Linked DNA regions of Homo sapiens: region 2 is linked to region 1. Evidence: fine-mapped expression QTL. A gene starts in region 1. The other region holds a variant in brackets. All regions are shown on one strand. Distances are from middle to middle.

Region 1 (2,914 bases):
ATTATTGATATCTGTCTTTCAACATTCGGGGTTTTGCTGGTGGAATATTCTCGTTTTGTTTAGGCCCTGCTTCAAGGTTCTAGAGATAACAACTCCTTCTCTTGACGTCATACTCTTCTCATTACTCCCTTCTCCAATTCTGAGGATTCACCACTAGGTGCGCCACATCCCCTTGCTCTGCGCAGCAGAAAATGGGGGAAGGGCGCCACATATTCTAGAAAACAGGTCGTGAATTGGTACTTGTCAGTATGTCTCCCTCATCACCCCTACCTCCAAAGCTCACCCTTTCAAGCCCCCAGTTTAGGACGGTGGGGGAGGCAGATGGGGATGGAAGGTGGGGGAAGCGCCTGGAACACCATTAGAGAGGGGAAGATTAAGAGGTGCTCCTGGATGCCTGACCTGCTCTGGTCGCAGTCCCCCACCCCGATTCGGTTCTCCAGTGTTTGGCACCCACCCCACATCCCCACACACCTCCAGAAATCCAGGGAATATTCGTGCTCCTCCTTTATTTCAAGCCTCTCCTCTACAGATGCTCACTGTGTCCTGTCAGAATACGCCAGACCTACCGCGCAGACAGACTTTGACATCAACCTGGAGTCTGTGGGAAGGGACAGCACCCAGGACACGGGGCCCCACAGGCCCCTTTCCGGAATCAGGGCCCGGAGCAGCGAACGCGACCCACCTCCCACGGGCTAGGCACAGAGCTGGGACGCTGGCCCACGAGGGCCCCCCCAGGCGCCCCCCAACTGCCTCCCGGGCGCCCCCCAACACGGCTCCCGTTTGGCCATTTCTCCCGCAGGAGCCTCCCCCACAGCCGTCTCTCGGTACCGAAACCGTCGAGGGCTGCGCGCGGGCGCCTGCAAAGCTGGCTGGGAAGCGGTCAGCGCGGTTCTCCTCCAGACGATCTGACGGTGCCTCTGGAGCCAGCCCCTCAGCCCTTGGTCCGGCCTGGCCCGCACCAGTCACCGCCTCCCCATAGCCAGGGATCTCGGGCACTGCGCACCTCTCTCTAGCGCCCGGCTCCGAACGGATCGTCTCCTCGTTGCCAGGCTGTCAGGGTCCGGGGGGCAGGTTGCCAGCCGGTCCACCCTGGCGGACCACCCCCACACCACGGCCCCCCACCTCACGCACCCCTACTTGCCTTCAGAGGCCCAGAGCCCAGGTCATCGGCCTCCCCCTCCTCTCTTCAGCTCTCCTCTGGCTGCTCTTCAGTTGGATTCCCACCGCTTTCCCAGCGATCCGAATGGCAAAGACGAGTCCCGCCCCCCACGCCTCTGCACCAAACTGGGCAGGGGCTGCGCAGGATGCGGCAAGAACCGCTCTCCGCGAGGGTGTCGGGAAGGGGGGCGGAGGGATACGGCGCGAAAGTGCAGGACGCCCCCCCTCACAGAACCACCATAGTTCCGACCCAGAGGTGGGCGGGGCCAGGACGAGCCCCAGCCGGGGCCTGCGGGTTGGCACCAGGCTGCCTCAGGAGGACCCCGCGGACCCTAACGTGGCGACGACCACCACATTTCTGGCGCTGCTATAATATATGGCACCGGCGGGCGGCTGCGGGGCCGGGCGGAGGACAGGATCGCGAGGTCGCGAAGAGCCGCGCTGGAGGGAGCAGCGGATGGATACCAAACCGTCCCTTGGTGTGTCTGCACCCCCGCCCCAACCGCCCCCCTATAAGGACTGCTGGGTGTTTGCCCTCTCCCCCTCCCTAGTCTGCTCACCCTCCTTCCTGGATGTTAATGGGAGAGGGGGTGTCAGCACTGCAGTGTGGGAGGGGAGAGGCGATTTCAGTCCAGACAGGCCCGGGGTTCTAGGGTGGTCGTCCTGTGCGTTTCTTTCCCAGCTTCGTGGAGCCACGCAGGGGAGGAAGGTACACCTGCTCTTAAGTGAACTCCGGGGCAGGGGGCTCCCATCAAGGACTCACCACTGCCCCTCTTCTAAAAGAAGGTAGACCTAGACCTCTAACCCTAGGAAACCAACCACTGGTCTGCACCAGACTCATTTCTTTCTGCCACACCGCTGTTTCTCATTTCAAATGGTGGCTCACGTTGGCATTGCACCGTCCCCACAGTTGCCCCCAAAAGAGGACCTTTCCCTGTCAGGACCCGCAGGAGGTCATAACAGTCCTCTCTCTTTGATGCCGCCAGGTAGGGATGGTCCTGGCTTCTCTTCGGTTCCCTGTCAAGTCTTCTCTTGCCATGATATTTGGCAGTGTGGAAATGTGGCTGGTATCAAACCAGCTTGGATCTCCGCCACCTGCCACAACTACCTATTGTTTCAGCAGTCATTCTCAGGAGAGGATCCCACCGTGCACCCCCCTCCCCGAGACAAAGCAACCTGGCTCATTTGAATCCTCTTCTTTCACCCCCACATCCGTCCTCTACTCTTGAGCCCCTCCTTTCCCTGCTTCCTGCATGGGACAGACAGAGCAATGTGGTTAAACACCAAGTTGATGTTGTTACTGTTGTCCATTTGAAAACTCATTTAGACACTACCCTCATTGTGTTTGGCAGGTAACGGTCCCCTAAAGATGTCCATGTCCTGTTCTCCAGAACATGTACCATTTTATATTACCTGACAAAGGATCATTAAGATTGCTATTCAGCTGAGTTTAATTTAAGATTATTCTGGGTTATCTTGGCCAATGTAATTGCAAGGGTACTTTAGATGTGGAAGGCAGGGACTCCATGTCAGATTGAAGCAGCATAGAAAGTCTACACTGGTCATCGTTGGCTTTGAAGATGGAAGGAAGCCAAGATCCAAGAAATACAGGCTGTCTCCAGAACCTGGAAAAGACAAAGAAACAGATTCTTCCCTAGAAATGCCAGAGGGATAGCTCCTCTGGCAACATCTTGATTTTAGTGTGGTGAAGCCCTTTGAAGATTTCCAACCTTCCAGGACTGTAAGATAATAATAA
Region 2 (2,914 bases), 260 kb before region 1:
ATGGAGTTATATTCCCAGGGGGATTATGGCTGCTTCTGCTGAACCATACAGTTTGCCAGCAAGTGGGGGAAAGTCAGCGGTCATGGGCCTCACCCTGCTCCCATGCAGCCTGCAGCCCTAAAGGCTGGTGTCATTCCCACTGTGCCCTACAACAGCACCGAGTCTATTTCAGGGCAACCAGTGACCAGGGCTGAGAACTTGTCCCAGACCACCAGCTTCCCCACTGACAAAGCAAGCAGACTCACAGTTTTTCGGCATCTCAGGGGGCCTGCAACAGTGATCCAGTTTCTTCAAAGGGTCTGTGGATTCTCTCAGCTTTCCTGGTATGTTCCTGCAGTACTTCTTGGAGCAAAGGTTTACAGTACGAGTCTCCACATGCTGCTCTGTCCATCTCAGCAGGAGCTGCAAGCTGGTCCTGCCTCCTATCTGCCATCTTGCCCCCATGCATTTATCTGAAATCAAAATACTTTTAATAAAAGCATTATACTACTAATATTCCAGTGTGAAAGTTCCTTTCTGCTCATATTAGAAATAATGTGAATCTTTACTAATCTGATAGGCAAAAAAAATCATCTCTCATCATTGTTTCAATATAACTCATTTTTGCTCTCTTCTGAAATTTCATACTGTGGATGTGACATAATCAATTTTCACAACCCCATATTATTCAGAGTGTTCCAATATTCCCTATTATCTACACGACATGGATAGCATCTTTTCAGAGTCTGTGCACTGGTAGTGGTTGTAATCCAGGGCAGAGTTCCCATGGCTATTTGCTCTGGTGAGCTGAATGGGTCCCCTTGGAGCCCAACAACTATGTTGAGAGAATTGTAGTATTGTGATAACAGAACCTGGTTGATGTAGGAGTGAGTGTGTGTGTGTGAGAGAGAGAGTGTGAGTGTATGTGTGTGCTGACAACCACATTTCCCTTTACTTCCTTCTGGCTTGTGTCTTTGCATCTCATTTCGTCTCCCTTTCTAAATTCAAGCCCAAAAGTGAAAAAAGGGAAATATCAGGATGGCAGTACTTGTAACCAGATTTTAATCAACATTCTTCACTAAGTCCTGAAGATAAACATATAAAAGGAAATGCTAGCACAAAGCGTGTGTGCCTATGTAGGCCTTGATAAGTATTGCTCTACAGACACTCATAAAGTAGTGCCATTTAGACTCCCCAAGTATAGGGAGGTGAGAAAGGCTACAGAGGAATGAAGAAAGTACTGAC[G/A]CTGACAAGGTGTTGCAGAGGAAAGGCCCTGGACTCTGTGGTGGACACACATATTGGTCATTTGTCTATTTTCGGTTTTGTTGTCTGTGCTTTTAAGGTCTTAGCCATAAAATATTTGCCTAGACCAATGTACTAAAGTGTTTCCCCCAGGTTTTTGTCTAGTACTTTTATAGTTTCAGATCTTACATTTAAGTCTTTAATTGATCTTGAGTTGATGTCTGTATATGATGAGAGACAGAGATGCAGTTTCATTCTTCTGCATATGCATATCCAATTTTCCCAATACCATTTATTGAGGAGGATGTCCTTTCTCCAACGTACGTTCTTGGTGCCTTTGTTGAAAATCAGTTTTGTCTGTAAACATGTGGATTTATTTCTGCGTTCTCTATTCTGTTCCATTGGTCTTTGTGTCTGTTTTCATACCAATACCATGCTGTTTTGATTACCATAGCCTTGTAATATATTTTGAAGTCAAGTAGTGTGATGCCTCCAGCTTTGTTCTTTTTGGTCTGGATTGGTTTGGTTATCCGGGTTCCTTTGTGGTTGCATATCAATTTTAGGATTGTTTTTTCTATTTCTGCAAAAAATGTCATTGGTACTTTGATAAGGATTGCATTGAATCTGCAGATTACCTTTGACAGTATGGTCATTTTAACTATATTAATTCTTCCAGGCCATGAGCATAGGATATCTTTCCATTTGCTTGTGTCCTCTTCAATTTCTTTCATCAGTGTTGTGTAGTTTTCCTTGTAGAGGTCTTTCACCTACTTGGTTAAATTTATTCCTAGGTTTTTTTTTTGGTAGCTATTTCAAGTAGGCATGCCTTTTTAATTTCTTTCTCCACTATTTCATCATCAGCTATTTCGTCATTGGTGCATACAAACACTACTGATTTTTGTATATTGATGTTCTATCCTAAAACTATATTGTATTTATCAAATTTGGGAGGGTTTTGATGGAGTCATTAGGTTTTTCTAGATATAAAATTATATCATTTGCAAAGAGGAACAAATGTAAAGATATCCAACTTGGATATCTGTTATTTCTCTTGTCTGATTGCTCTGGCTAGGTCTTCCAGTACTATGTTGAATAGTAGTGATGAAGGTGAAAAAACAAGACCCTTGTCTTGTTCCAGTTCTTAGATGAAATGGTTTCAGCTTTTCCCCATTCATTATGATGTTAGCCCTGAGTTTATCATATATGGTTTTTATTATTTTGAGTTACGTTCTTTTGATGCCTAGTTTCTTGAGAGTTTTTATCATGAAGGGATGATGAATTTTATCAAATGCTTTTTATGGATTGGTTGAGATAATCATATGGTTTTTGTCCTTCATTCTGTTGATGTAATGTATTATGTTTGTTGATTTGCATATGTTGAACCATCTTTGCATCCCTGGTATAAATCCCACTTGATCACGGCATATTATCTTTTTGATGTGCTGTTGGATTCAGGTTGCTAGTATTTTGTTGAGAACTTTTGCATCTATTTTCATCAGGGTTATTGGCCTGTAGTTTTTTGTTGTTGTTGAGTCCTTGTCTGGTTTTTAATATCATAATAATGCTGCCCTCATAAAATGAGTTAGGGAGAATTCTCTCCTCTTCAATTTTTTTTCAGTAGTTTGAATATAACTTTTGTTAGTTCTCCTTTGAAGGTTTGGTAGAATTCATCAGAGAAACCATCCAGGTCTGG

Which allele goes with the higher level. Positions count from the first base shown, and alleles are read on the strand shown. Sizes are in standard deviations (SD) of each study's normalised expression.
As copies of A replace G in region 2, the expression in cerebral cortex of the gene that starts at base 1,254 in region 1 goes down (small effect, 0.35 SD a copy in GTEx).

What was found. PIP is the estimated chance that this variant, and not a neighbour inherited with it, causes the effect. A credible set is the group of variants that fine-mapping cannot tell apart.
Region 2: its variant is the best candidate, but not a certain one, in a credible set for the expression of GPRASP1 in cerebral cortex (GTEx, PIP 0.73).

The regions. Positions count from the first base shown.
Region 1 is chrX:102,649,823-102,652,736 of GRCh38, reverse strand. GPRASP1 (G protein-coupled receptor associated sorting protein 1) reads right to left here and starts at 1,254. Exons shown (of 6, transcript NM_001184727.2): 1 at 1,142-1,254; 2 at 1,004-1,050; 3 at 472-562. The region is part of intron 4 of ARMCX5-GPRASP2 (ARMCX5-GPRASP2 readthrough); the gene reads right to left.
Region 2 is chrX:102,908,367-102,911,280 of GRCh38, reverse strand. All of the region lies in intron 10 of LINC00630 (long intergenic non-protein coding RNA 630), which reads right to left. Among named protein-coding and RNA genes, the nearest start is that of RAB40AL, 27 kb to the left of the region's middle. The variant G/A (reference allele first, on the strand shown) is at 1,225.